Linked DNA regions of Homo sapiens: region 1 is linked to region 2. Evidence: fine-mapped expression QTL. A gene starts in region 2. The other region holds a variant in brackets. All regions are shown on one strand. Distances are between the middles of the regions.

What was found. PIP is the estimated chance that this variant, and not a neighbour inherited with it, causes the effect.
Region 1: its variant is fine-mapped to the expression of ESM1 in whole blood (TOPMed, PIP above 0.99).

What each region holds. Positions count from the first base shown.
Region 1 is chr5:55,010,786-55,026,997 of GRCh38, reverse strand. GZMK (granzyme K) reads right to left here and starts at 2,742. Exons shown (of 5, transcript NM_002104.3): 1 at 2,612-2,742; 2 at 2,191-2,338. The coding sequence starts at 2,675. LOC102467081 (a long non-coding RNA gene) reads left to right here and starts at 2,829. Exons shown (of 3, transcript NR_104662.1): 1 at 2,829-3,069; 2 at 4,286-4,370; 3 at 5,476-5,699. The variant G/A (reference allele first, on the strand shown) is at 4,926.
Region 2 is chr5:54,977,112-54,993,323 of GRCh38, reverse strand. ESM1 (endothelial cell specific molecule 1) reads left to right here and starts at 7,731. Exons shown (of 3, transcript NM_007036.5): 1 at 7,731-8,107; 2 at 11,178-11,327; 3 at 13,889-15,457. The coding sequence starts at 7,807. The coding sequence ends at 13,992.

The sequences.
Region 1 (16,212 bases), 34 kb before region 2:
GGAGCCTTGAGCATTTGAGATGGAGTGAGGCCATGTGGAAGGGGCTGTGGAAGGTTCCATCTAACAACTTGCTAGGCAGGTTGGGGCAGGAGGAAGTGCTCTGTGAGAGGGGCCTGGGAGAGAATCAGGAGAACAGGGTACAACAGCTGGTGAGAGTTTTGCTTCTGGTAAGTTAAAATGCTGAAAATAAGTTTGTACAGGACATTTTTTATCAATTTCCTTTTATATTTGACATGGCAACTAATAAAGGGGCCAGAATATTGAGGGAGGAGATGTGTGGATGGCTGGTGAGAAGGGAGCACTCCCAGGTTTGGCCCTCTTCAAAATTTTGCTGAGAGAGAGGCTTGGGGCAAACTATTCCCACAGGATACTGGGGAGTACATTTGTGGGAAGCCACCATTGAGCTATTTTGTAAATATTTTGAATTTCATAAAGCTTAATATTTTTCCAACCACCGATCTGCCTACTTTTTACACCCAAGTGTCCTGTAGAGGAAATTTGATCTACATATTTTGCAGTTCTTTATACCCCAGCCATTTAAAATGATATTTAGCAATAGTTTGTTTTAAGAAAAAAAAAACAAAACACAAAAAACTCCAAGACCTCTCTCCAGTCTTTTGTCAATAATCTCTTTCCCCAATTTGGGAATCCGCTTCTCGTGAGTTAAATCCACTTGACAAAATTTAAAATTCAACTTAGTGATATTATTTAATTTCCTATAACACTTTATGGCTAGTGAAGCACTTTTTCATACACCATGTTTCAGGCCTAGCCAAAGAAAGAAAGAAAGAAAGAAAGATCTTTCAGTGTATTTCTTTCTTTCCATCCAAAGTTTGTTGAACATTTAGAAGTCAAGCTCTGTGTCTGGGGAGGTTATAGACCATTTGAATGTGTATTATGAGCATATTTGAAGATGTGCATATTTTGCATCAAATGAACATTCGCTGACAGTTCCCCACTCTGTCTCTCTGATCTCGAGGGGGCAAATGCCCTGGAGAAGAGAGAAGTGATGGGGATGAGAGTGTGATTTCTATGAGGGCAAGAACCCTGTGTAAATGAAGTAACCATATTAAATTGGAAATCAGTGGCTTGCTATTTAGAGATAGCAGAAGATCTCCCAGTTTGCAGGCTTCAAAACTTCCAATTTGTGATCAAACAGTTCCATTTAAATGGGGTAATCAGACAAAACCCCCAAAGCATAGAAAAGCAAATCAATTCAATTGTTCTGTTTAGATATAGACAATGCCTGGAGAGCAAACCATTACAGCTAAGAGAGATCTTTAAGTGAAAGAAAAGGAGAAGGCTCCATTTCAGCTTATTAGGTAAGAAACATAAGGAAACATATATACAAACAAAAAACAAAACCAAAAACCCAAGCAAACAAACAAAACAACAAATACCAAATTAGTTTTCTACTGGCATTTCCTTTTGTGATGGTTGCAGCATCCCAAGAGGGGTTTTGTGCTTTATTAGCTGAAGTAAGAGAATCCTAGGCTGAAATGGACTTTGGAAGGTTTTACTCTGTCTTCAGAAAAGCTTTCATTCTAAGTATCCTAGAAAATAACTCTCTCATTATCTTTCTCTTTCTAGAAGTCATCAATAACTTGTTTTTTTCCACCTAGGAAAGTTGTAAGTGGTGAGTAGCTACTGTTAGGTAGCTACTGTTAGGAGTGGCAAAGTAGGCTTCTCATGCGTATAATACTAATGATAATAGCTGCAATTTTTTTGTGCTTACTAAATGTGCCAAGCATGCTAAAATACTTAAACAGATACTATTTAATTCTCAAAACCCACAAAGCAGGTATGATATGATTATTACCCCTTTGTAAAATGGGGAAGCTCAGAGCACAGAGCAAGCTCAGGTTGTCTGATTTCCTTTTGAGCAGTGTGATCTAACAAGGTCAAGAGTACTGCTGCTTCAAGTATTACTGTTGCTGTGTTCCCTGCATTATACAGAGGACTTGAATTTGTCTAATGTCTTGCCTGGGAAAAGCAGCTCAGTTCTCTCTGAAAAGGAAAACCCAAGACAGAAAGCGTGGATGTGGAAGAAGGTAAATAAACGCCACCAGTTGGTCAGTAACCACAGAAGCTAACAGTAGATCAAATTCTCATTCAGGAGAGGTAAGCTTCTCTTGTACCTATAATAACTTTCAGAAAAAACACATGTCTGGAAAAGTGTGGAGGACTCACCGATATTGGCAGTGGGCTGCTGTCAGCACCCACTGTGGATCAATCAGAACACCTCCACAAACGTGATGTCCGCCATACTGGATGGAGGCCATAAATGGCCTGGAATGAGGTGACACTTCTTTCCCTCCAATAATTTCCATATTGAAACCTACAAAAGTAGACCAAAAGGTTTCACACAAAAGATCTAAACTACTGTTTCATGTAATTCTTCCAATGACAGTCACTATATTATTTTCAAAGCTTAAAAAACAACAATAACCCTACCTAAAAGCTACAATAATTTTACTGATGAAAAATTTGTATAATACATTACAGTTCAGAAAGATAGGAATGATTGTGAAAATAATTTTCATCTATAATATAACAATATAGTCAGTAGAAATTCATTTAATGTTTACATGTAGATATAGGAGATACTTACACACATGAGTCATATAAGCCCCAACTATTAGGAAAAACAGAGAAAAGGAAGAAAACTTAGTCATTTTAAAGATTTAGATTTAAGAAGCCCAGATGAAATGTGTTGATCCTGTGATGAAGGAAGAAGATTCTGAAGACTGAGTTTTGTTCTTGTAAGTTTTGACTTTCTCACCACAGGTGCTCTAGGGGTAAGATTTTTTTTCACACCTAGGTGTAAACGTTATGTATCAGTTTGGGGACTTTCAGGTCTGTGCTTTTAGCACTTTTTTGTTTTGTTTTGTTTTGAGACGGAGTCTCTCTCTGTCGCCCAGGCTGGAGTGCAGTGGCGCGATCTCGGCTCACTGCAAGCTCTGCCTCCTGGGTTCACGCCATTCTCCTGCCTCAGCCTCCCGAGTAGCTGGGACTACAGGCGCCCACCACCACATCCGGCTAATTGCTTTTAGCACTTTTTTGGGAGAGGTATGTATGCCATAAAGAACTCATATCTGGAGATACCATCTCTAATACCTGTATCAGAGTACTTATGCTATAAAGAAAATTTATACTATATGTGTATATAATATTTATAAATGAAAAATATCCATGCCATAAGAATGTAATGAAGTTGCAGACAGAGTTCAAAGATGTCCATTGCTCTCAAGCAATACTTACTATTTTTCCTGGCACAAAATGGTGCCTATCATATTTCATTCTTCTCTCTTTTTCATTTGGACATAGATTTATGATGAAGAGAGACATGGACCTTGCACAGATTATGGTTACTTCACAATGTGGCTTAGCTAAAGCCTGAGCACCAACCAGAGAAAACCATATGTTTTGCAGCAAACATCCCTACTCATGTCGTTTCTCTAAGTTTGCCCAAATTTGGTTAAATTTTAGTTACATTTTTGTGAGATTTCATAATGTTGTTAAAGGTGAACATTGGCAACTATTTTTGATTCAGAGTCTCTCTTTTACTCATTTTTAATTGAAAATGGCCATGTGTTTTTCCAGGGACTTAATAATAATGTCTTTTAAAAATAAAGGACTGCATTTTGTAATTCTTCCCAGGAACAGATGACAATGCATTGCCAGGCCTTCAATACAAAAGGTATTAGACTCAAGATTCTACAAGATTCTGTTTGTGCCAGACACTGATCAGCAGTGCAAATATAAAATGAATACAAACAGATCACGCATCAGAATGCCAATCACTTCCTAGTAACACTGATCAAAATTTGCATTAAATCAACAGATCTTTCTTTTAAGAGGTATGCATTTTATCTTCCATTCATTTTAGAAAGGAGAATTAAAATCCAGAGCTATTATGCTCGGCAGATTGCAAGAGACTCCTTTCAAATTGTTTTCTAGCACAAAGAGTAGGAATAATAAAAAATAATACTATAATTATGTATTATTCATTATAACTTAATAATATATAAGTAAAATACCTTATTTCCAAAATTCTTTTTATATGATCATTTATGGTTTCATGTCTATGTCTTTGAGGAAAGCAGGACAACTTATGTTACAATGGAAGAAATAAGTTCCAAGAGGCTAAGTAATTTGCCCAAGGCAACACAGCTTATGACCTAGACCAAATCACCTGCCTGACCTCCCTGTATGTTAAGTTGTATGTGAATGAGTACCCTCCCAGAACACAGAATTTTATAAAAAACCTGCTTTCCTTGTACAGGTGTGTGGCAACAGTAAAGCTTTCTACATGTTAAACAGAATGAACAAAACCAACGCAGAGCAGTGACTTCCTGTCAGAGCAGAAGGTGAGATAAGGAGGAGCCAGATTAAGAAAAGCCACAAGCTTAATAAACCAAACTTATTACTCCCACTCAAATGTCCCTGTGAATTTTCAAGTCATCTTTGTCACTGTTGATGTACCTTGGATGCTCTACTGTGTGCCATTGTTCCACATTGGAAGGCAGACAGGATGGCGTCAGTTCCCTGCTACATCCCAGTGATGCTGGGATCGTAAGGAAGATGGTGTGTGACAGGTAGAAGTGATCCAAACTCTAAGGAAGAAATAAATTGTAAAGGACGAAGCTTTGTGTGTGTGTGTGTGTGTGTGTGTGGCGGGGGAAATGGGAATGGTTACAAACATCTCTCAGCTGCTTATTTCTGAGTAGTAAGGATTAATGTCCACATAGCGTTGTACAAATTGCTGAACGTTTTTAGCTGTATTTCCAGGGAAGTGGTTGTCATTAGTCTTGTTTTATGGATAAATAAACTGAAATTCAGGGACTTGCTTGAGATTACCGAGCTAGCAGGTGGCCCTTAAGCTCCTATGTGCTGGCTCCCGGCTCTATGTTCCTTTCAACCTG[G/A]CTACATGCCTGCCTCCTTTGAGAAGTCCCTGGGGGTTTAGGGGCTCTGAGACACAAGCTAGCTGTGCAGAAGAGAAAAAGGATTTAGCCATACACACTGCGTGTAATTAGACATGGGTGAGATTTAGTTCAGTTGGGAAGAGTCTCATAACTCTTTCTTGTAGCTGACCTAGAAAATTCTGAGAATCATGTTGGTTAATAGTAATGAGTTATTTGGTTTTGGCTTTAGACCGATTTGCCAGTTAATAGTATCATTTGTTATTATATTCACGATTCTGGATTTGAGAACAGTGGGCTGTGTAACATGATGAGCTCGGCGATCTAATTTATTTCTGGGTGTTGGTTTTTGTTCTGTTGAGTCTGCTGCAGGGAGGGCCATGTTTGCTTTGGATGGCTTTACAGCAACTGTACCGGACTGAGCAAGTGCAAGGCTGTGCTCAGAGGAGGGCTGGCTTCACACGTCATAGCCTTGTGGCTCTTCTTTGCTGTGTTTAGCTGTCTTTCTTGCTGCTCTTAGAGATGTTTTGTTTCTGCTTCTCCTGTGTTTCAGGAGACCCTTATAGAACAGCTGTGCCACTGCTCCAAAGGCCTCGTGTGGTTCTATCCCTTGGACTGCCTTTCTTCAACAGCCCAGACACCTGCTCTGTCAGATTTATAAGCCACACCCCCTAGAGCCATGCCAATCAAAGCATGGCCCGCAGACCTGTGCCAGTCTCCGAACCTCTTTGTTACCGATTTGGAGCAAGATGGGGACAGAAATTGAGAGCCAGAGTTTAGAAACTGTAACAGCGACTTAACATGGCACTGTATTAATTTATTTTATTAATGAAATAAAATTTGTCCAATCTAATAAAAATTGGGTGTGTATTTTGTATGCCTTTGTTTTTTATTTAATTACTTTTTTCTATTTATTTGTGTTGTATAAACGTATCAGTTCACAATGGGCTGAAACTAAAAACAAACAAATTAACAAACTAAAACTCCAAACACATTGGTCTTTCCCACAGGTAGTCTGAGAAACACTGCTCTGTAGACATAAGTGCAAAGCAGATTTGTTTCAAGCTCTTCCCATTTATTCCCTTTTACATTCCTTTGAAAAATGTTCTCAATATCAAGTTTTCCCAAGCTATCCAACCATCCCCAGCCCTTGGCACTTGACATCAGGATTTGGCAGAATTTCACTGGATCCCTCCCTTGTAGCCCACCACCCTTCAGGCCTTGACTTCTGTCCAGTAATGGCTTAGCTAATTTGGTAAATGTATCTGCTAACACCCATAGTGAAACTATGGCAGCTTTGAAAATTGGGCTTGGGAAGGATATTGGGGTGCTATATAATGATATTAAGTCCGAAGTTCTCAAGAAAATGTAAATCTCACCTCAGATTACAGCCATCCCTCCCACTAGGTCCTTAAAATGAATGAGCTTAAGGGCAGTTGGCAAGGAAAGCAAAGTACCCCTCAACTCAGAGCTGGGGCTGTAATAAGGGTTGGGGCACCTGGAATACTGCCTTTTCCTAAGCAACTTAAATGTAAATACTTCAGAGGGCTGCTCTAGGGCCTCTTCTTGGTGGAATGATGGTGGTGGCAAAGGTGAGATTGAGGGAAATTTGTTTTGTCTTCCTCTATCTCAACTTTAAATCAGAATATATTTTGCATGTTAAATCTTCCTTTCATAAATATGAAGATACGTTTTCTAAACCATCATTATTGAGTTAAGTCACACAATAGTACTTCAACTTCCTTTTCCTTTACTCCTCTCCACGTCAGCTATGAAGTGACTGGAATGGATGAGAATTGCCTTAAGTGCAGGATCCTCACATATGGAGTAATCAGGAAAATACCTTGAGGACTTGGCAAATAGGGATGTCCCAGCACTGCTGGTGCTGGCTGCCTGGTCATACACTGTCCCTATCTCAACTTTGTCTCCAGGCCTTACACTGCCCTTTTATGACTCCTTTTTCTTTTCTTCTTTAGAGCAGGCTTTGATGTTCATTTTAACTAAGTTCAAATGTTATGGGTGGGATGAGGAAAGTGCCACATGGGGTGGTCCCTGTGATGTCGCTGGACTCAAGACAGATCACTCACATTGTCCGCAATTACTTGTCCTGAAAGATTTGCACATGTGGAAATCCTTTCAACAGTAATGACTGCCAAAGGAAGGTTTTCAGCTCCAGGCTCGTAGGTACCCTTGCCTTGCACAGAGGAAGGTGAGGACTATATGAGCCTACCAGTATTATAGGGAGAAAACGGGTAAATATGTAGGCCAAGTTAAGGGAAAAATACCAGAGAAGGACCAGGTAATAAAGACCAGAGGAAAGGTGGAGGCAGGAAGGGAGGGAAGAAAATAAATACTGTTGAATAAAGAAGGAAAAATGATCAATTGAGGATGGGAGGCCTTATAATGGAACACTTCCATTTATATTTGAACATCTCAGATACACTACTGTGATACAGTACTGTGCCCCAAAGCCAAATATGTTATCATTGTTTTACAATAGAAACAGATACATTACAAGAAATAATCTCATCATGCTGAAAGCAATTAAATTGTTTAACTAGTCAGGATGATTTTACAAAATAAACGAAGTCACAGCAGGCAAAGTAGTAGGAATTTCAAAATGAACGACCACATTCATTAATGAGGGAAACACAGTAATTGCTATGGTCAAGCTGGAACACAGCAAGTGTTATCGATTGATTCAGTATTCACTAATTTTCCATTGAGAATCAATTCAAGTAGAAATCTAGATATGATATACTTTTTCCAAAAAGTGACCAAACAACACACACACATACACACACACACATACAACCTTCCCCTCCCACCCTTTTTTCTATTAGGAAATGAAATAATTATATACACTAAATGAGATGGTAAATTAAAAATAATGTTTAAGAGAGGAAGGCATAAAGGAAACTATCAATAAGTTAGAGCATAGAAGACTTTTGTAAGGTAGAAAATACCATAGGCAATATCCAAAGACATATGGCAAAATGCTTGTCACTTACATTGAAAGCATTTCCCCCCAAAGACAATATCTTTAATATATGAAGGGTCCTTATAAATAAATTTAACAATAAGTGGGCTCAATGTGAGCAAATCAATATGAAGACAAATAAAACAGTATTTTAGTTAAACTACCTCACTAGGGACCTGGTATATAAATGATATTTAGAAATAATTTTGATGACTATTACAGGATAAATAATGAAGCACATTTTACATTTTTGCAAGGCTTAATAAACATAAGTTTGATATGCTAAGAACACAACTGCTATAGCAAGTATTTGATAAAAAGGCTGCAGGCTGAGAAGAGATTATCAACAAAAGCATAATCTTCTAAATTTTTTTTTGAGAAGTTACCAAGTATCTTCTTTATTATTTTTAATTAATGAATGAATTAGTTTATAAATTTATACCACATTCAACTTATTCTACTAGGTATAAGCAAATCACATTGAGAATTACAAAAATTCCAGATGCATAGATCGTTCACAGACTATATATACTCCAGTAGGAAATATGAAGGACTTAAGTTGTTAACCATAATACCACATAAGGACAATATGAATGGGAATATTCAGTGCATTAGTTATGTTACAGAAATATGTGCAAATAAGTTTAAAATTAAGGCTTTGATGTAAATATTATAGAAAATACAATCATATATTTGAATTGCTAGTTACACTAGATAATCCCAAACTATATTCTTTTTTTTGTAATTTTTTTTATTATACTTTAAGTTCTAGGGTACATGTGCACAACATGCAGGTTTGTTACATATGTATACATGAGCCATGTTGGTGTGCTGCACCCATTAACTCGTCATTTACATTAGGTATATCTCCTAATGCTTTCCCTTCCCCCTCCCCCCACCGCACAACAGGCCCCTGTGTGTGATGTTCCCCTTCCTGTGTCCAAGTGTTCTCATTGTTCAATTCCCACCTATGAGTGAGAATATGCGGTGTTTGGTTTTCTGTCCTTGCAATAGTTTGCTGAGAATGATGGTTTCCAGCTTCATCCATGTCCCTACAAATGACCTGAACTCATCCTTTTTTTATGGCTGCATAGTATTCCATGGTGTATATGTGCCACATTTTCTTAATCCGGTCTATCATTGATGGACATTTGGGCTGGTTCCAAGTCTTTGCTATTGTGAATAGTGCCGCAATAAACATACGTGTGCATGTGTCTTTATAGCAGCATGATTTATAATCCTTTGTGTATATACGCAGTAATGGGATGGCTGGGTCAAATGGTATCTCTAATTTTAGATCCTTGGGGAATCGCCACACTGTCTTCCACAATGGTTGAACTAGTTTACAGTCCCACCAACAGTGCAAAAGTGTTCCTATTTCTCCACATCCTCTCCAGCACCTGTTGTTTCCTGACTTTCTAATGATCGCCATTCTAACTGGTGTGAGATGATATCTCATTGTGGTTTTGATTTGCATTTCTCTGATGGCCAGTGATGATAAGCATTTTTTCATGTGTCTTTTGGCTGCATAAATGTCTTCTTTTGAGAAGTGTCTGTTCATATCCTTTGCCCACTTTTTGATGGGGTTTTTTTTTCTTGTAAATTTGTTTGAGTTCATTGTAGATTCTGAATATTAGCCCTTTGTCAGATGAGTAGGTTGCAAAAATTTTCTCCCATTCTGTAGGTTGCCTGTTCACTCTGATGGTAGTTTCTTTTGCTGTGCAGCTCTTTAGTTTAATTAAATCCCATTTGTCAATTTTGGCTTTTGATGCCATTGCTTTTGGTGTTTTAGTCATGAAGTCCTTGCCCATGCCTATGTCCTGAATGGTATTGCCTAGGTTTTCTTCTAGAGTTTTCATGGTTTTAGGTCTAACATTTAAGTCTTTAATCCATCTTGAATTAATTTTTGTATAAGGTGTAAGGAAGGGATCCAGTTTCAGCTTTCTACATATGACTAGCCAGTTTTCCCAGCACCATTTATTAAACAGGGAATCCTTTCCCATTTCTTGTTTTTGTCACATTCATCAAAGATCAGATGGTTGTAGATGTGTCGTATTATTTCTGAGGCCTCTGTTCTGTCCCATTAGTCTTTATCTCTGTTTTGGTACCAGTACCATGCTGTTTTGGTTACTGTAGCCTTGTAGTATAGTTTGAAGTCAGGTAGCGTGATGCCTCCAGCTTTTTTTTTTTGGCTTAGGACCGTCTTGGCAATGCAGGCTCTTTTTTGGTTCCATATGAACTTTAAAGTAGTTTTTTCCAATTCTGTGAAGAAAGTCATTGGTAGCTTGATGGGGATGGCATTGAATCTATAAATTACCTTGGGCAGTATGGCCATTTTCACAATATTGATTCTTCCTATCCATGAGCATGGAATGTTCTTCCATTTGTTTGTATCCTCTTTTATTTCATTGAGCAGTGGTTTGTAGTTCTCCTTGAAGAGGTCCTTCACATCTGTTGTGAGTTGGATTCCTAGATATTTTATTCTCTTTGAAGCAATTGTGAATGGGAGTTCACTCATGATTTGACTCTCTATTTGTCTGTTATTGGTGTATAGGAACGCTTGTGACTTTTGCACATTGATTTTGTATCCTGAGACTTTGCTAACGTTGCTCATTAGCTTAAGGAGATTTTGGGCTGAGACAATGGGGTTTTCTAAATATGTAATCACGTCATCTGCAAACAGAGACAATTTGACTTCCTCTTTTCCTAATTGAATACCCTTTATTTCTTTCTCCTACCTGATTGCCCTGGGCAGAACTTCCAACACTATGTTGAATAGGAGTGGTGAGAGAGGGCATCCCTGTCTTGTGCCAGTTTTCAAAGGGAATTCTTCCAGTTTTTGTCCATTCAGTAAGATATTGGCTGTGGGTTTGTCATAAATAGCTCTTATTATTTTGAGATACGTCCCATGAATACGTAATTTATTGAGAGTTTTTAGCATGAATGGCTGTTGAATTTTGTCAAAGACCTTTTCTGCATCTATAGAGATAATCATGTGGTTTTTGTCTTTGGTTCTGTTTATATGCTGGATTATGTTTATTGATTTTTGTATGTTGAACCAGCCTTGCATCCCAGGGATGAAGCCCACTTAATCATGGTGGGTAAGCTTTTTGATGTGCTGCTGGAGTTGGTTTGTCAGTATTTTATTGAGGATTTTTGCATTGATGTTCATCAGAGATATTGGTCTAAAATTGTTTTTTTGTTGTGTCTCTGCCAGGCTTTGATATCAGGATGATGCTGGCCTCATAACATGAGTTAGGGAGGATTCCCTCTTTTTCTATTGATTGGAATAGTTTCAGAAGGAATGGTACCAGCTCCTCCTTGTACCTCTGGTAGAATTTGGCTGTGAATCCGTCTGGTCCTGAACTTTTTTTGATTGGTAAGCTATTAATTATTGCCTCAATTTCTGAACTTGTTATTGGTCTATTCAAGGATTCAACTTCTTCCTGATTTAGTCTTGTGAGGGTGTATGTGTCCAGGAATTTATCCATTTCTTCTAGATTTTATAGTTTATTTGCATAGAGGTGTTTATAGTAGTCTCTGATGGAAGTTTGTATTCCTGTGGGATCGGTGGTGATATCCCCTTTATCATTTTTTATTGCATCTATTTGATTCTTCTCTATTTTCTTCTTTATAAGTCTTGCTAGTGGTCTATCAATTTTGTTGATCTTTTCAAAAAACCAGCTCCTAGATTCATTGATTTCTTGAAGGGTTTTTTGTGTTTCTATCTCCTTCAGTTCTTCTCTGATCTTAGTTATTTCTTGCCTTCTGCTAGCTTCTGAACGTGTTTGCTCTTGCTTCTCTAGTTCTTTTAATTGTGATGCTAGGGTGTCAATTTTAGATCTTTCCTGCTTTCTCTTGTGGGCATTTAGTGCTATAAATTTCCCTCTACAAACTGATTTAAATGTGTCCCAGAGATTCTGATATGTTGTGTCTTCGTTCTCATTGGTTTGAAAGAACATCTTTATTTCTGCCTTCATTTCGTTATTTACCCAGTAGTCATTCAGGAGCAGGTTGTTCAGTTTCCATGTAGTTGTTTGGTTTTGAGTGAGTTTCTTAATCCTGAGTTCTAGTTTGGTTGCACTGTGGTCTGAAAGACAGTTTGTTATAATTTCTGTTCTTTTACATTTGTTGAGGCATGCTTTACTTCCAACTATGTGGTCAATTTTGGAATAAGAGCAATGTGGTGTTGAGAAAAATGTATATTCTGTTGATTTGGGGTGGAGAGTTCTGTAGATGTCTGTTAGGTCCGCTTAGTGCAGAGCTGAGTTCAATTCCTGGATATCCTTGTTAACTTTCTGTCTTGTTGATCTGTTTAATGTTGATAGTGGGGTGTTAAAGCCTCTCATTATTATTGTGTGGGAGTCTAAGTCTCTTTGTAGATCTCTAAGGACTTGCTTTATGAATCTGGGTGCTCCTTTATTGGGTGCATATATATTTAAGATATTTAGCTCTTCTTGTTGAAATGATCCCTTTACCATTATGTAATGGCCTTCTTTGTCTCTTTTGATCTTTGTTGGTTTAAAGTCTGTTTTATCTGAGACTAGGATTGCAACCCCTGCCTTTTTTTGCTTTCCATTTGCTTGGTACATCTTTCTCCATCCCTTTATTTTGAGTCTATGTGTGTCTCTGCAAGTGAGATGGGTCTCCTGAATACAGCACACTGATGGGTCTTGACTCTTTATCCAACTTGCCAGTCTGTGTCTTTTAATTGGAACATTTAGCCCATTTACATTTAAGGTTAATATTGTTATGTGTGAATTTGATCTTGTCATTATGATGTTAGCTGGTTATTTTGCTCATTAGTTGATGCAGTTTCTTCCTAGCATTGATAAGTCTTTACAATTTGTAATGTTTTTACGTTACATGCTTTCTTCCAGTTGATCAAATCAGCTACTGAAGCTTGTGCATTCATCACATAGTTCTCATGCCATGGTTTTCAGCTCCATCAGGTCATTTAAGGACTTCTCAACACCGGTTATTCCAGTTAGCCGTTTGTCTAATCTTTTTTCAAGGTTTTCAGCTTCTTTGCATTGGGTTTGAACTTCCTCCTTTAGCTCGGAGAAGTTTGATCGTCTGAAGCCTTCTTCTCTCAACTCATCAAAGTCATTCTCCATCCAGCTTTATTCCTTTGCTGGTGAGGAGCTGTGTTCCTTTGGAGGGGGAGATGTGCTCTGATTTTTAGAATTTTCAGCTTTTCTGCTCTGTTTTTCCCCCATCTTTGTGGTTTTATCTACCTCTGGTCTTTGATGATGGTGACATACAGATGGGGTTTTGGTGTGGATGTCCTTTCTGTTTGTTAGTTTTCCTTCTACAGTCAGGATCCTCAGCTGCAAGTCTGTTGGAGTTTGCTGGAGGTCCACTCCAGACCCTGTTTGCCTGGGTATCAGCAGCGGAGGCTGCAGAACAGCAAATATTGCTGAACAGTAAATGTTGCTTCCTGATCATTCCTCTGGAAGGTTCGTCTCAGAGGGGTACCCAGCTGTGTGAGGTGTCAATCTGCCCCTACTGGGGGGTGCCTCCCAGTTAGGCTACTCAAGGGTCAGGGACCCACTTGAGGAGGCAGTCTCTCTGTTCTCAGATCTCAAACTCCATGCTGGGAGAACCACTACTCTCTTCAAAGCTGTCAGACAGGGACATTTAAGTCTGCAGAGGTTTCTGCTGCCTTTTGTTTGACTATGCCCTGCCCCCAGAGGTGGAGTCTACAGAGGCAGGCCTCCTTGAGCTGCAGTGGGATCCACCCAGTTTGAGCTTCCTGGCCTCTTTGTTTACCTACTGAAGCCTCAGCAATGGTGGGCGCCCCTCCCCCGAGCCTCGCTGCTGCCTTGCAGTTCAATCTCAGACTGCTGTGCTAGCAATGAGTGAGGCTCCATGGGCGTGGGACCCTCCGAGCCAGGTACGGGATATAATCTCCTGGTGTGCCATTTGCTAAGACCATTGGAAAAGTGCAATATTAGGGTGGGAGTGACCCGATTTTCCAGGTGCCGTTTGTCACCCCTTCCCTTGGCTAGGAAAGGGAATTCCCTGACCCCTTGCTCTCCTTGGGTGAGGCGATGCCTCCTCACCCTGCTTCAGCTCACACTCAGTGGGCTGCACCCACTGTCCTTCCCCAACTGTCAGACGAGCCCCAGTGAGATGAACCCAGTACCTCAGTTGGAAATGCAGAAATCACCCATCTTCTTTGTTGCTCACACTGGGAGCTGTAGACTGGAGCTGTTCCTATTTGGCCATTTTGGAACTGCCCTTCAGTCTTCTAAATTTTTAATGTTGGTTGATGAGTCAGTTGATTGAATAATCTGTACAACAAACCCCTATGACACAAGTTTACCTATGTAACAAATCTGCACTTGTAACCCTGAACTTAAAATAAAGGTTAAAAAAAAGAATAAAAAGACCAGAACAAGACTGAACTTTGTTTAAATTCGTCTATGTCTGTTCTTGTACCAGTACCATGCTGTTTTGGTTACTGTAGGCCTGTAGCATAGTTTGAAGTCAGGTAGTGTGATGCCGCCAGCTTTGTTCTTTTTGCTTAGTGTTGCCTTGGCTATTCAGGCTCTTTTTTTGGTTCTATATGAATTTTAAAATAGTTTTTACTAGTTCTGTGAAGAATGTCAATGACAGTTTAATGGGAATAGCACTGAATCCATAAATTTCTTTGGGCAGTATAGGCTTTTTAATGGTAAATGATATTGATTCTTCCTGTCCTCCAGGTATTAAGCCTAGAACTCATTGGTTGTTTTTCCTGATCCTCCCACCCTCCACCCTCTGAAAGGCCCGAGTGTGTGCTGTTCTCCTCTGTGTGTCCATGTGTTCTCATCATTTTGTTCCCACTTACAAATCAGAACATGTGGTATTTGGTTTTATGTTCTTGTAGTTTGCTAAGAATAATGGCCTCCAGCTCCATCCATGTCTTTGCAAAGGACATGATCTCGTTTTTTTATGGCTGCATAGTACTTCATGGTGTATATATATCACATTTTATTTTTCCAGTCTATCATTGATGGACATTTAGGTTGACTCCATGTCTTTGCTCTTGTGAATAGTGCTGCAACAAACATATGTGTGCACATGTCTTTATAACAGAATGATTTATATTTCTTTGGGTATATACCCAGTAATGGAATGGTTGGGTAGAATGGTTATCCCAGCACCATTTATTGAAAAGGGAATCCTTTCCCCACTGTTTGTTTTTGTCAGCTTTGTTGAAGATCAGATGGTTGTAGGTGTGTAGCCTTATTTCTGGGCTTTCTATTTTATTTCACTGTCTATGTGTCTGTTTTTATAACAGTACCATGCTGCTTTGGTTACTGTAGCCCTGTAATATAATTTGAAGTTGGATAGCATGACACCTCCAGCTTTGTTCTTTTTGCTTAAGATTGCCTTGGCAATTCAGGCTCTTTGTTGGTTCCATATGAATTTTAAAATAGTTTTTTTCTAGTTCTGTGAAGAATGTCATTTGTAGTTTGACAGGAATAGCATTGAATCTATAAATTGCATTATAAAATTAAATCTATAAATGGCAGTATGGTCATCTTAATGATATTGATTCTTCTTGTTTATGAGCATGAAATATTTTTCCATTTGTTTTTGTCATTTCTGATTTATTTGAGCAGTATTTTGTAGCTCTTCTTGTAGAGATCTTCACCTCCCTGGTTAGCTGTATTCCTAGGTATTTTATTATTTTTGTGGCAATTGTGAATCAAAGTTTGTTCGTGATTTGGCTCTTGACTTGTTTGTTTTTGGTGTATAGGAATGATAGTGATTTTTGCACATCAGTTTTGTATCCTGAGACTTTGCTAAAGTTATTTATCTGCTTAAGAAGCTTTTGGGCTGAGATGATGGGGTTTTCTAGATATAGGATCCTGTTATCTGCAAATAGGGATAGTTGGACTTCCTCTCTTCCTATTTGAATGCTGTTTATTTTTCTTGCCTGATTGCCCTGGCCAGAACTTCCAATACTATGTTGAATAGGAGTGGTGAGAGAGGACATCCTTGTTTTGTGCTGGTTTTCAAGGAGAATGCTTCCAGCGTTTGCCCATTCAGTATGATGTTGGCTGTGGGTTTCTCATATATGGCTGTTATTATTTTTGAGGTATGTTCCTTTAATACCTAGTTTATTGAGAGTTTTTAACATGAATGGATGTTGAATTTTATTAAAAGCCTTTTCTGTATCTGTGGGGATAATCATGTGGTTTTTGTCTTTAGTTCTGTTTATGTGATGAATCACATTTATTGATTTGCATATGTTGAACCAACCTTGCTTCCTGGGGATGAAGCCTTCTTGATTGTGGTGGATAAGCTTTTTGATGT
Region 2 (16,212 bases):
AGGAGATTAAAGATTGATAAAACAGAATACATTCTACTACTAGGTAAATTGATGACGGGTCAACAAAAATAAAAACAGATCTATCTATTTAGGCAACTATCATATTTCATTGCATCTAAGATGGCATCAGTGTGATATGTACCATTATTTTAAGTGTATCATTAAAGAAAAAAATTCTTCCAATTAATCTCTGATATAATGCTTTTGTAGCACTAGAATTTTTTTATTTTAATTTTTTATTTCCATGGATTTTTGGGGAACAAGTGGTGTTTGGTTACATGAGTAAGTTCTTTAGCAGTGATTTGTGAGATTTTGGTGCAGCCATCACCAGAGCAGTATACATTGTACCCAATTTGTAGCTTTTTATCCCTCACCCCCTTCCCACCCTTTCCCCTGAGTCCCCAAAGTCCATTGTATCATTCTTACGCCTTTGCATCCTCATAGCTTAGCTCTCACTTATAAGTGAGAACCTATGATATTTGGTTTTCCATTTCTGAATTACTTCACTTAGAATAATAGTCTTCAATCCCATGCAGGTTGCTGCGAATACTGTTAATTCATTCCTTTTTATGGCTGAGTAGTATTCCATTGTCTGTCTGTCTATCTATCTATCTATCTATCTATCTATCTATATCTATCTATCTATCTACCTATCTATCATTTCTATCTATCTATCTATCTATCTATCATCTATCTATCTATCTATCTATCTATCTATCTATCTATCTATCTATCATCTATCTATCTATCATCTATCTATCATCTATCATCTATCTATCTATCTATCTATCTATCATCTATCTGTCTATCATCTATCTATCTATCTATCTATCTATCTATCTATCTATCTATCTACCATAGCTTCTTTATCCACTCATTGATTGATGGGCATTTGGGCTGATTCCATATTTTTGCAATTGCAAAATGTGCAGCTGTAAACATGTGTGTAGCACTAGAATTTTTACTCATACTTATTGAAAGGACCCTTTTAGGGCTTATATGGACATAGATTTTTATAATTTAGAACTTTTGTACCTTCAAAAGAAAGAAAAATATAAACTCAACAAATTGGTTAAAATATTCCTAAAATGTCTCCACATTCGTATCTGATCCTCCTAAATCACATGTAAATGCCATCCATGTTTATTTCACATAGTATTGTCTTCTGGGTCATCAAAATCATTGATGATACAACATTTTTTAAAAGAGAACTCCACGATTGTCTTTAAGATTCTCTTCCCAGAGACTGGCACCCATCCTGCAAATTTTAATGTGCACATGTAGTCAGTGACAATTACATCATGATGATTACATCTCATCTTCATTGATGTTAACATGTGAAGATGTGTATTAGTGAAATAAGCTAAAAATTCATGAGCGTAATATAAATAAAAATCCTAGGTCAATCCCTCAGAGACAGACTTTTTCTGTCAGAAGTCTTCAGAGTAACGTTAAGTACTAATTCACTAACCTGAAGAGATGTGACTGGGAAAAACTGTTAGTTTAGAGGTTCCTCAAATTTTTGGGTTTGTCAGAATCAACTGGCTTATTTGTTAAGAATGTTAACTCCCAGACCTACCCCAACCCATCAGATTGGAATCCCTGGCTGTGGCATTTCTGACAAACTTCCCAGGACACTCTCATGCAGGTGGTGTGGAGAATTGTTTTGAGACACACTTGCTGAGACCCGTCACAGGCACCCTCAGCTGTGCTGCACTAAGCTCTCAGATCACAGGCTTGGAGACTTCATGAAGTCCGTGGCAGCCAAAAAAAAAAAAAAAAAAAGGCTTCATCAGGAACTGCCTAGGAAGAAAGAAGCCAAAATATTTTGACGCCAAATTAGAGTGAGTCTGAAACTGCCAAATCCTGAAAATGTCCTAAATAAGGGGCTTGGAAGTTATGTTTCTTATTTCTCTTCATCTAGTGGTTAACTTTTTTTTGAACATTCAATCATTTATTCAACTCACATGTCATATAAACGGCTAAGGCCATTTATCACTGGACAAACTGATGAGTTTGGTGAGGGTGGTCCTGATTAACATTTTATTACATTATAAAAGGGGTCAGTTTAAGGTTAGGCAAAGGAAATTTCATGTCATTAGAGAAGCAAAGTAGCAGAATCATTTCCTATGATTCTTGTGTTAATCAGAAATTCTATCTTTCTAAAATTCCTAGTGGAAATTCCAAATATCTTAGCAATAACTTCTAATATGACTTTAAAAATCTATGTTCTCTAGTTCTAGTGTCTAAATGACTTCCAATGCCTACAGTAATTCTTTAGTCATGTAGGAAACTGGTGACACTTTTAAAAACTCTTTTAGCAGAGAAGTTTAGTGAGCTGTTTAGTCATCCCATGCTTGGATGGGGCGAGGCAGGCTGCTAGGAGGGGTGGTGGAGTTTTCCTAAGGAAGAATGTTGAAACTCAGTCATCATGGTTTGCTGTGAATTAAGTGAATGAGAAACTAGACCATCTTGCAGAATGTGAGAGGAATGGAGGAATGCGTGAGACCTGAGAGAGCCACTGGTTTATTTTCTCTCATGGTTTAATTTGTCTTATAGAGTAAGTAATAATGTTTTACACCTGTACAGTAATTTAGTTGGCATCATGTTTTTAATCCACATTCTCCTTTGATCTCAACATCTCTTTGAGAAAGGGAAGGCATTTCTCTCCCTTATATTTTATTAAAAGAAAATGACTTAATGTTAATGAGGAGGCTGGTTGGTGCCTTACCCATAGCTGATTATGAAACTGGGATGCCAACCTACGTCTTCTGGTCCTGAGTTCAGAGCTACTTTTGCTACTCACATTGCTTCTCATGTCAGGGTGGCACATGGTGCTTCTGGATGTGGGTTCATATTTGCAGCTAGAGGGATGCTGTGTGAAACAGGAATCTCTTGCTGATGGAGTCCGAGATTCAGAACCTGATTTGAGAAGGAGCTAGCTGTTAGAAAGAAAAGCTTGCCTTGATGCCCCACATTAGAAACTGCCAGAACTGGGGGCAAAGAGGAGAAGAAGGCACCTCAGTGAGTAAGAGCTCTTCATGTTTCCAAGCCAGACTTCCTGGCTCTAAAAAAGTTCCTAGCAGCGTGAACCCAAAGTTGAAGTTTCTAGATTTGAACAGGGTTAAAAAACAACCTGACTCTGTGGCTGCTTCCTCAGAGGCTCCATTGGAGTAAAAATCTGGATATAGTGCCAAGTTCTCTGAGAGGTGCCCAGACATTCTGGGTTTGTAGCAGACACTGCGGGTGTCCTGTCCTTATCTTCTTGCAGTCACTCACACACCCTCACACTCAGGGCTCCTGCAGAGCTCTGTGTGATGGCACCCCAGCTGCCTACGAGGTTGACCTGCTCATCAAGACAAATCAGAGAGCCCCCATATGGGCAAGAAGCCTAATTAAAGCAGATGCATTTCACTTTGCTCTTCTAAGCAGGTGTAGTTTTTGAAAATTGCCTGTAAATCATATATTGGTACATTCAATTCCACTTTGCTATTAAAATTGTCTTTATTAAAAATAGAAACTTAAAGAATTAGAGAGATTTCTTTTGGGAAAATATTTGCTCCAAGACATAAGATCACATTTAAAGAATGAAGCCAATCTTCAGAAATCAGACGCTTGATAATAATAGTCACGATGGTTTCATATCTGTTGCCCTGTTTGGCCCTCTTATTATTGAGGTACTGAGGAGAAAGGAGAGGTCTAAGGTATGTGGCATGTGACTTGCCTAAGATCACATATCTTGGCAGTGGTAAAGCTGTTTCTAGGCAAACTGTACTCAGGGCAGGAGGCTCTGGGAAGATTCCTCAGGCCCTGGGCTTTGACAGCTGACCTGTGACTGCCGTGAATCCCAGCCAGTTTGGCAGAAGTATTTCACCAAGTTCTATTGGCTATGAGGGGCTCCCATGAACTTTCCAGGGTGGATGTGATATTGCCAAGCCCAAGGTCAACAGGACAAATTTGGTTAGCTGTGAAGGAACTGCCGCAATGGGACTACAGTCTTTGCTCAGGCTCCATCCAATCCTCGATGTCTCTTGGATTGGATGTGCTGTTTCTTGACACCTCTACCTCATTCCCACAAGTAAACACATTCTGCAGCTTAACCTAGCCTGCCCTAGAATCTGGGCCTCACTTTGCTTCTCCTGGTGGAAAGAGAAAGAAAGGGAACACATTGATGCCCGTTTAACTTACTATCATCTGAAGATGATTCTGGGAAACAGTTGGTTCCTTTTATGTGTTTATTAAGTATTAAGCTCCTGCTGTGGGCTAGACCTTGCAGTAGGCACATGCAAAATTGCTATCAGCTAGTGTCAAAGCAGGAAGACTTTCAGATGGTATCAAAAACCACAACCAAAACTAACCTAAAAACCAAATCACCTAAAATCTGCATGTAAATGTCTCCACTTGCTCCTCCAAACTTTATGCCCTCAAGTCTGCCTTTGTAATTCAATTTAAACCAGACTTCTCTGGTAGAGCTGGTTTGTTAGGAAGGCACAGTAAGTACGGTATAATTCGCTTTACCATAAACCACCTTCTGAGAGTCTGGGATCTGCCCAGAGCCTTTCCACTGGACTACTTTTACCTATCCAGAAAAAAATCCTTGTTATTTGGTTAGAAGCAATCATAATGTACAAAATAAACACAAAATATTAATGCACATTACCAAAGCTTATTTTCCTAACACAATACCAGCTTTAAGAAAAAAATCAAAGTGGCATTTTAAGTATACAGGGTATACTGGGTTAAATAGATATTTGGTTTTATCATTTCTCTGCCCCCATTGCAAAACACCATATGCTGCAACATTTGGATCCACAGATGGTATGGTTTGACCCACCTTAGTTTGAACTTACATTTTAGGAGTTGTGAAAATCTTGTGCAATTCCTCTTGCCCTTTCTCACTCTGACTTGACAACTGATATACAGGCAGAGCAAGATGAGAGATGTTCCAGTCCCCAGCACAAAGCAAGTGAAATGGGTGGACCTCATGCACTCACTATCAACAGCTCTGCCATCATCTTATTGCTTTTTAATGCAGCTTAGAGTTGGCTCCTTGGTTGCTCGTGCTCCCATTTCCTAACCCTTTGTGGTCATTGCTAACTTTCCTAATGGAATTCATTGATCTGGGCTCAAGGCTCTGGGGAAGACAGAAATCACTAGATAAAAATCTTACAGGGATTGTGTTGGGACAAATGGTTTTTGTTGGGTCTTGGAGGGATTGAAGGTTCCCCTAAAATGAGTTGTTAGGCACTGTGTATTGAGATAGTTCCACCACTGGTGAACTCTATTGGGCATATTTTCTGCACTTACCTGTGCATTGTAGTTTGGTTTACTATTTGGATTTGGTACTCTCAACTTACATTTGTTTAGTTGTCATTTACTGAAGGTATTATCAATTTGGTTTCCCTTTATCTTCCATAGTGGAAGAGTTTCATGTCTTTATGTGCTATTCAGGAGGACGAAATCCACTCCATTCCTTCTGTATTACATCTAGTATAGCTTACCATGTCACCCACCTTGGGCACCTGTTTGGCACCTGTATGTATTTGATTTTACAATCCTTAATCCAGTCTCCAGAGCTTGTTGGTCTCAGGGCTGGAGTCCTGGCTTCACCATTTGCTAACTGTGTGATGATGGACAAGTTACTTACCCTCTCTAGGCCTCAGTTTTCTCATATCTAAGATGGGGATAAGAATAGCACCTAGCTCTTGAGGTTGTTTTGAAAGTTAAATGTGGTAATCTACATAAACTGCTTAGCATGGCATCTGGCACACAGTCAGATCTCTGTAAAGGTTAGATATTATTATTAACCACTATTCCAGTTAACTACTCCTCAGAAAGTGGTGTTCAGTAACAAGGGACATTTTCTAGGGTCAGCCTAAATTGCGACCTAGGCCATTGGAACTATTGGCCATGAAAGCACAATTATGTATTGTAATAGGCAATAGAATATGTGGCTCTGACATTAGACTAACATCCATCCCTTCAATATAGGGACCTTAGGCAAATTAACCTCTTTCTTACTCAGTTTCTTCTTTTAAAAAATAAGCATGATAATAGCAGCCACTTCATAATATTGTGATGAGGTGCAAATGAGTTAATGCATGTAAAGTGTTTAAGCTATTAACTCAACAAATATTACCCATTACTGAAAACATCAGAGTGTGCCACCTGCTAAGTAAGTGCTTCTGGGGAGATAGAGTATTTCAAATTGGATTGTCATGAAAAATTTGGAAAATTTGAAAGCTAAAACTCTTGCTTTCATTTCCTACTGCCTCAATTCTCTGTATTCTGAATTTACTCCCTGTGTCCCCCTAAAATTGCATTTGCAAAAGCCGATCTTCAAGTTACATCCAATGCCCGCTCTGCCTCATCTTCTATGGGAAACAAGAATTTTAGAGGTCAGGTAGCCTAACACCATCAATTCTCAAAAGAGGAAGCTGAGGCCAAGAGAAGTCCTGTGAATTTCTTACAGCTCATTTGTGACAGACCAAGAATTACCCACTTTACTGGGTTGTTATTTACTAAGTGACAGTGAGTCTATATCTCTTTTGACAAGTGAGGTGGGGGCATGGAATTCGGCATGTGGTTGGTGTAAGAACTCCCCTCTCTCCTCTTTAACCTTACTTAATAAGACCCTGGCACAGTTGATATTTTAAGAGGGCTACTCTGTTTTCCCAGAGGGACCTAGGCACGGTAACCCTCTTAGCATGCAGACCTTGTTTCCTGAGGGGTAATGTTTCCCTTCCCTGTGACTTGTTTCTTGGGGGCTGTGTTCTGATTTTCCTGCTGAGCCACTTGTTGCCTTGGGCTGGCTGCCGCGCTTGGCAGTTTTTAGTGAGGGCTCTGATAGATGCCAGGAGGTGAGGGGAAGGGCTCTGGGTGGACTCCGTCATTGGACAAGCAGACTTAGTGATGGATGAGCCTTCCCCTGAGGAAGTTTTGGATCAGAAGTCCAACTGATAAGTTTTTCCAGAATTGAGTAACCCAGAAGCAGTGCCGAAAGGATCTTACCTCTCTTGTGGCTTTTTGTATTGATTTTAAAAGAAATTCTCAGAGGCAGTTCCACATTGTACTGGAAGCACAGCTATATCCACAATAGGCTTAGATATATGTAACATGAATTGCTTTAGAAATAACATTTGAGGAGAGGGGTGAGAGGAAGGAAGAGAGGGTCTTAAAAAATAGCCCTATCAAAATATTTTCTTTCTTCTAAGTATTGAAAAGACACAATATAACCCTTTCTTCTTTCAAATGATCTCATAGCTATTTGTTGAGGGGAAATACCAAATGTTTATTATTTTTTTTGAAGAAGCTTCTTCGGTCCTGATGATTCATGTTGATATCATTTTCCTCCTGACTACAGAGGCTCTGAGACAAAGCTACACCTCAAGTGATATGCCAGGGTCAGAACAATTCCCGTCCTGAAGGAGGGTGTGCAACCTTCTTTATCCCTCCTTCACAGACGTCCTTGAGCCCTTGAGACGGATGTGAGTGAGTTTTTCAGTCCTCATGCAAAACAACCATCTAAACATAACAGATGACATCAGCTTGGGCTTTTCAATTCCTGGATGGCAGCAGCGTGTTAATCCAGCCTTCATCCTGGATTTCATAAACCAAAACAAGAGAGCCTGGCAGGAGGACAGCGCTGCTGCTGGGTTGAGGAAATTGATGACGGGAAAGCATGCGGGCAACCCAGTGTATAAAACTCATAAACGTGTAGGCAGAGGCTCAGCTACCAGTTTGGACGGCTGCTTCCCACCAGCAAAGACCACGACTGGAGAGCCGAGCCGGAGGCAGCTGGGAAACATGAAGAGCGTCTTGCTGCTGACCACGCTCCTCGTGCCTGCACACCTGGTGGCCGCCTGGAGCAATAATTATGCGGTGGACTGCCCTCAACACTGTGACAGCAGTGAGTGCAAAAGCAGCCCGCGCTGCAAGAGGACAGTGCTCGACGACTGTGGCTGCTGCCGAGTGTGCGCTGCAGGGCGGGGAGAAACTTGCTACCGCACAGTCTCAGGCATGGATGGCATGAAGTGTGGCCCGGGGCTGAGGTGTCAGCCTTCTAATGGGGAGGATCCTTTTGGTGAAGAGTTTGGTATCTGCAAAGGTAAAGAGTGACCCCTTACCTCTCCCCTCCCGGGGCATGCTGAGAGCTTTTAGCCAGCTTGGGAGGTGAGGTGGCTTTGCTCCTCAAGAGTAAGAGGGAAAAGGCAGGTGGATTCTTGACAAGGCACCACACAGGTATTGTCATGGGTAGAGACTGAAGGATAGCTCCAAGTAGCAACTGAAACCAGTGTGCAGGAAGGCACAGAAAGAAGTGTGGCATTTTACTCGTTGCCTTAGGAGATCGCAAAAAGAAAGCTGCAATGGAAGATTGTGTTGGCTCCTTTTCTGGAAAACTTTAGAAACTTGACAGGTAATCTGTTAAGGATGGCTTAGGTGCTCTCTCCTCTGCGAGGCAGCGATTACAAAGGTCTGCACTAGATAACCTCTTGGAATGGTTTCTAGCCCCCAGATTTAGTGATTCTTTGATCTTGAAAGGGTCCACAGGATGGAGGGCCACTCTCAAGATCAAATATTTCTGATAAACACAAATGCACTTTATGGAATAGAGTGAGCTTAAGTCATCTAACAAAATAACTCACTCTTCAAAGAGGGTCCCCTGAAGCATAAAACAAACCTCATCTGACTTTATAAAGGTTTTGGTCATCTGGAAAAATAGCAGATGGTGTTAAGACAAGGAAAAATAACAATAGAGAAAAATAAAAACTGGAAGTCTGTAAAGAATGAGGTTGACCACTTGTACACTTAAAGAAAAACTTCGTCGGTTGAAATTTTAGCTAAATAATGTAGTTAAGCATTTGTAGAATTTATTTTAAACATAGTAACTAGTTTAAAATATTTAACATTTTAAAAATGTTTAGAATAAAAAGAATGATGATTTAAAAATACTCTACGTATAGATATCTCATGATCTTATTATGAAGAGCTATTATTAAGAAGCAACACATGCTATAACCCCATCCATCAGTTGTGTAATACCAGGAAGCTTTCAAAATTATAAAAAGGACTGAGAAATTTCTAAATAATTATTATGTTTTATGTATTTAATACATTTTTTATGAATAATATTTATCCAGTATTGTGCTAATCTCATTAATTCTCCTACTTCTTAGACATATAATGTATAAATTAATCATCTTTTAATTTGCAAGACATACAAAATTAAAAAAACAAATTCTTAAAGTATTAGGAGAGTTTTATTTTTTGCTTAGTTTATTTTTGTTTATATACAATAAGAAATAGAATATTGAGAAAATATTTTGTTTGGTGAACACATATGCATGTTTCTTTCAACTGAATAGGATCTGTATATTTTGTAAATTATGGGGCTTATTGACCAAGAAAACAGTACTTCACATAAGGAAATTAGGGAGGAAGTGGTTAACACAATCATACTTATGATATAGCATGTATATGCAGTGGATTGCTTTTTCTCTTGGCATAATATGCCTTTGTACATGTGATTGTAAATGTACATTACATATGGGCAAAGAAACAAGCTGTGTGGCATCTGGAGTCTTTAGCACTGTAGTATTCTACTGAATGATCAAGATACTAAAAAGATCTTTAAGATTGCTTCTTTTGGCTTTCTTCAGGTTGCTGATGAATCTAGTTTTAAGCATTTTTCTCTCTGCTGGAAATAGGAGACTTTGTGAGCCTTAGCAACTCGAGATAGAGATAATACATTTGGCAATCATCTCCCTTCTTCAGCTTTTTAAAAGAACATCCACGTGAAAACTGTAAACTTCAGCTGCGTATCCAAATGTCTTCTAAATATTCAGATGTCTGTGAACATCTTGCCCAGATTAACAATCAGCAGCCAACACATATTTAATGAACACTTACTATCTGCCCAGCACTGTTCAGTACATCAGGGGATACACTAGAAGTATCTCTGGGAATTTGGCTAAAGTTTTAGTTTTCAATATCGCTGCAGGCACAGTCAAATCCTAATCCTGTGTGCTTTTCTGGAACAGGCCTTTGCAGGATCCCTTTTTAAGATCTCTTCTTCCCAGCAAAGAGAACAGTGTTCAAAACCAGGTTCCTCTGTGATCTGAACCATATTGAAAAGAGCACTCATAGATCTCTTTAAAAAAAGATAGCTCATTGATGATCTACTTGGTCAGTTAGTGGAGTATTAGACTGCTAGAGACTCAGATGGCTCACAATTTGTTCTTTACCCACCTGTGATTGTACATTTACAAGGTATTTTCACAACAAGAGAATATTCTATATCTATTCTGCTGGCTTTTAAAGGTTGGTTAGTCTACTGAGATGCTGTTTATCCTAAAAACAGCATTTTAAATAATTTTATGCATTTTAAATAAACGACTTTGTCCTCTTTATTTCAATGTAGGATGTTTTGGCATAAGTGTAAGCACTGGAGGTCTAAAAGCTTCTAGTTCTTGGTAGGTGTACAAACCCTCAGGGTGTATAAGCCCTGAGCTTTCTTGCTCATTTAGCATCTTGCATGTTAGCCTTGCAGAGGATTTTACTAGGGAGCCCTCTTAACTACTGAGGGAGTCAGGCAAGTTGTATGACATGCCGTTTCGACAAATAAGGAACTTGATAAGGGTTGGAGCAGATGGAAGATTGATTGCTTCATGGTGAGCTAGGATGATAGCTCTCTCCCTGGTTAGTTTGAAGCCCTTTCCTATACACTTAAAATAGTAAATTATCTGTGAATACAGTAGATTCAAAGATAGCATCACATTTTAAAAACTCTTTGAGGAGCTGATGCATATATGTCTGTTCAATTTCCCACCTTTGCTGAGCTGTTACAGAGGTCATCTGTGAGAATTTATTGGTATCTAAGCAGAACATCACCAGAATGAAGACTGGTCCAAGGAGACTGGCTGTGTGTAGCTGTCTTCAACTTAACTTTACATCACAACACTAAGCCCGAGGCATCCATTATCTGTTCTTAATGTGTGATTTCATATTTATGACTCAAAGTTTCAACTTTCAAATCCTGGGTTTGGAGAATTGGATTTTACTTTACAGTCAAGGTTCATGAGGTTGGTTCAAATCGCAAGGCTATGCACCCAGGGCTGTTAGGATGGAGACGTATTTACAACAAGCAGCGTCCTCTCCAACCTTTCCTTTGTCCCCAGACTGTCCCTACGGCACCTTCGGGATGGATTGCAGAGAGACCTGCAACTGCCAGTCAGGCATCTGTGACAGGGGGACGGGAAAATGCCTGAAATTCCCCTTCTTCCAATATTCAGTAACCAAGTCTTCCAACAGATTTGTTTCTCTCACGGGTAAGCACTGATTCTGGTATAAGCATTGGAAGAATAGTCTCATTTCAGTGTGAATAACTTAGAAAATATCTGTGAGTAGAATAAGATGTGGATTGGAATGATTTTATTTCCTTTGCTTTACTCAGGGGAACGGTGGGTGGTAGCTGAGTTTGGTTGCTGTTGCTGTTTTCTAAAAAGAGCCCATCAATAATTTTGAGGTTTACATATAATTTCTCATAAAGTTTACCTGGTTTAAATATGATTTATAGGAGGATAAATATGATTGATTACCAAAAATCTGTAATAAAAAATAACCAACTGAGATACACAAAGTTCTTTAAATTCTTCAGTGATCTGTTTTATATATTTACTAGACAAAACTATTTATCTCCCAACTTCACATAGAAAAAGTACTGTGAGGAATTTATTGGATAAGCTTTAAGAGTCAAGATAGAAAATATAGAACGTTTCTTTTTTTTAACCAAATGAAAGCATTTAAGTGTAATAATTCCAAGTGTGTGTTTTTATGGATTTTGGAGAGGATAAGAAATAGTATGTGATTGAAATTTTGGAAATGAATGAAACTGTAGTAATACGTGCTGCTTGTTAGTCCGTGTGTATTTCTTATACAGGTGTTAGAATGTGAGGAATACACAACCTATGAGATGGTGCTATGTACATATTTGTTTATTTTGTTGAATAGCTGGCCAGTACAGGAGAGTTCCATTAAACTGAAAGTAGCTCATTTAAAGCAACATACATCACTAAAGCTTAGGCCTCCATTGCACAGAATGGCGATTGTAGTTAATAATTCTTATATATTTCAAAATTGGTAAAATAATAAATTTTAAATGTTCCCATCACAAAAAATAAGTATATGAGGTGATGGATATGCTACTTAGTTTGAGTTCATCATTCCACAGTGGAGATATATATCAAAGTATCATATTGTACCCTAAATGTATACAATTATTATTTGTCAATTAAAAACTGTATTTAAAATTATAAAAAATAAATAAATAATAAGCCCAACATATAGTCACAGAGATGGCTAGTATCAACAAATGATATACTTTTTCCCACCACAACTATAAATAACAATTCAAGTCCATTTTATTTAGTTTTTGCTTTTGGTCTTTTGCATTTCAAGTTAATAAAATATAAACTATTTGGCAAAGGTGCTTGTTTTCTAATTTTACCTCCTTCTTATGTATGGGTCAACTAAACACATTAAAATGAAGCGGAAATATCGTGCTTTTAAGTGAATTATTAGTTTTAAGTATGGTGATGCCCATAACAATACTTACATTATAGGTTACACAAAAATATTTCCACATCAAAGTTAGGCATTGAGATTCTTATCAGAAATATTTGAAAAAAGCAGTCAGTTTCTCTCTTTTCTGACCTAGGGTATTTCCTTTCATTAGCTAAAGGTGCAACCAGCAAAAGATGATTTTTAGTGTGATCTTGGTAAACCTTAGTCAGGTTCAGGATGGAGAGCAGAAAACCCTAAGGACCTCTTGGGGAGGCTGCCTAGGGTTCTTTGTAGTCTACATGTGTCTTTGAGACTACATGAGACTTCCAGGTTCATGCACTGGAGTTTACAGGAGAAGGCTTGGGCTTCACTCCTGACACAGGCTTCACATCACCTCTGCACAAACCTGTTTGGGCCCAGCCTTTGAGAGCAGGCTAAATGGCTGCAAGCTTCACCAGCACTAGGACCCCCAGAGCACGAGCTTGTCTTCTCCAACTTTCCACCTGCTGGCTACAGCACTCTTGTCAAATGTGCTTCCTGTCCACAGTGTTCCACTTGGTGTTCTTTTTTTTGGCAGTGAGCTTCCCAAGTTGGGAATTCACAAGTAAGTTTTTGTGTACGAGGGTCTTGGGGGAGTAAGATCTGGAATGTTTCATGGACTTACACACATTCGTCTGCTGGGCCACGCTAATCTTCTTAAAGCATTCCACATCAGAATGTGCACTGCCAAAGCAAGCACACCTCACTACTCCTTGAAGTAGAAAATTTCATTTTAGCAAATTTCAAATATTACAAACTTTTCTCATATGTAGAGTGAGAAGTGTCTTTATGAACGTTCTACCCATTGGTCTGCCTTTTGCCTTCTGGATGCAGCAAAAGTTAATCTGTCTTTCATACCAGTTAGTGTAAGAATCTAACTTGAGACCTGTTTGTACAACATTTGCCTATTCCATAAGTATTTATTAAGTGCCTACTATGTGGCAAGCACTGTCCTAAGTGCTGGAGATATAGCAGTGAGCAAAATAAAGTCCCTACCTTTGTGAAACTGGAATTCTAGTGGTGGAGTGAAATAATACACAGGAAAAAAAGACAAATACATGTAGAAGATAATGTCAGGTGACGATAGGTATACAAAGATAAGTAATTCAAGGGGTGCTATTGTATATAGAGGTGCTCACTGATATAGAGCAGTGAATACAGTTAGCATGGAATCTTAAATTGATTAAAGATTTCATTGTAAATTCCATGTAAAACAAAAATAAAGCAAAACTGTGTTGTCTTTGAGCTATAGATGTTTGGACATGATTTGTATTCCGTCTACTTTCAGAGCATGACATGGCATCTGGAGATGGCAATATTGTGAGAGAAGAAGTTGTGAAAGAGAATGCTGCCGGGTCTCCCGTAATGAGGAAATGGTTAAATCCACGCTGATCCCGGCTGTGATTTCTGAGAGAAGGCTCTATTTTCGTGATTGTTCAACACACAGCCAACATTTTAGGAACTTTCTAGATTATAGCATAAGGACATGTAATTTTTGAAGACCAAATGTGATGCATGGTGGATCCAGAAAACAAAAAGTAGGATACTTACAATCCATAACATCCATATGACTGAACACTTGTATGTGTTTGTTAAATATTCGAATGCATGTAGATTTGTTAAATGTGTGTGTATAGTAACACTGAAGAACTAAAAATGCAATTTAGGTAATCTTACGTGGAGACAGGTCAACCAAAGAGGGAGCTAGGCAAAGCTGAAGACCGCAGTGAGTCAAATTAGTTCTTTGACTTTGATGTACATTAATGTTGGGATATGGAATGAAGACTTAAGAGCAGGAGAAGATGGGGAGGGGGTGGGAGTGGGAAATAAAATATTTAGCCCTTCCTTGGTAGGTAGCTTCTCTAGAATTTAATTGTGCTTTTTTTTTTTTTTTTGGCTTTGGGAAAAGTCAAAATAAAACAACCAGAAAACCCCTGAAGGAAGTAAGATGTTTGAAGCTTATGGAAATTTGAGTAACAAACAGCTTTGAACTGAGAGCAATTTCAAAAGGCTGCTGATGTAGTTCCCGGGTTACCTGTATCTGAAGGACGGTTCTGGGGCATAGGAAACACATACACTTCCATAAATAGCTTTAACGTATGCCACCTCAGAGATAAATCTAAGAAGTATTTTACCCACTGGTGGTTTGTGTGTGTATGAAGGTAAATATTTATATATTTTTATAAATAAATGTGTTAGTGCAAGTCATCTTCCCTACCCATATTTATCATCCTCTTGAGGAAAGAAATCTAGTATTATTTGTTGAAAATGGTTAGAATAAAACTATGACTCTATAAGGTTTTCAAACATCTGAGGCATGATAAATTTATTATCCATAATTATAGTAATAATAACCTTAATAAGCATAAGAAAAACAGAGTCACTCTGGATTTCAAAAATGTCAAAAAATGAGCAACAGAGGGTCCTTATTTAAACATAAGTGCTGTGACTTAGGTGAATTTTCAATTTAAGGTAGAAAATAAGTTTTTAGGAGGTTTGTAAAAGAAGAATCAATTTTCAGCAGAAAACATGTCAACTTTAAAATATAGTTTATTTTCATATTTTTTTCTTTTAAACTTGGTTGATAAGTGGAATTAGGAGTATATTTGAAAGAATCTTAGCACAAACAGGACTGTTGTACTAGATGTTCTTAGGAAATATCTCAGAAGTATTTTATTTGAAGTGAAGAACTTATTTAAGAATTATTTCAGTATTTACCTGTATTTTATTCTTGAAGTTGGCCAACAGAGTTGTGAATGTGTGTGGGAAGGCCTTTGAATGTAAAGCTGCATAAGCTGTTAGGTTTTGTTTTAAAAGGACATGTTTATTATTGTTCAATAAAAAAGAACAAGATACAGCTTCTCTGTGTTGATTTGTGATTTTGTTAAATTGCTAAATGTTATTTTAACAATTCATTCAATAAATAAGAACTCTCATTCATATTAAAGGACAAGCTCTTCAACAGAATTTTCTGCTCTGGATAAGCCTCTTCTATCAAAACAGGGGGTCAGGATATTTGCTTCTCTGCCTCACATTTTTGGTCTACTCATTTTTTAGAGTTTCCTAAAAGTAGGTCCCAATATATTAACTCATTCTGCAAAACAACAACACAAGGTAAACACTTCTGTTGACATCATTAGTTAGATGCAGAGCTCAGGCTTGAAATAACCATTTCTATTTTGCTACCTGTATGGCTCTTGAGGTCCTAGACTTAGAGCATTTTTTCTTCTTTGTTTTGTGTTCTCTTCCTGGATTTTGTCATTTTCAATGGTAGAAACTTTGCTATTAAACAGCTACTGAGTACTCCTTTGCACTCTTCCATGTTCTATGGGGAAACCCCTTATAATTAACTCTCAATCAGTTGTTAGCTGTTTTACTGAAGATTACAGCTCTAAAAATGTCGAACAATTTTTACTTTTATCAGTTTAAGTTTCTCATTCATAATTAATACTAGCATTTTATTTTCATTTATTTTCTAATATTTTTGAAGGGGGTTGCTTTTAGAAAACATAGCCAAAGACAAACCTTTCAGTACCTATGAAAGAAGAGAGTATTTTACAGCTTTGAAGCTTGAGTATCATATTCAAGAACAGTCTATGTTCATTCTGCCTT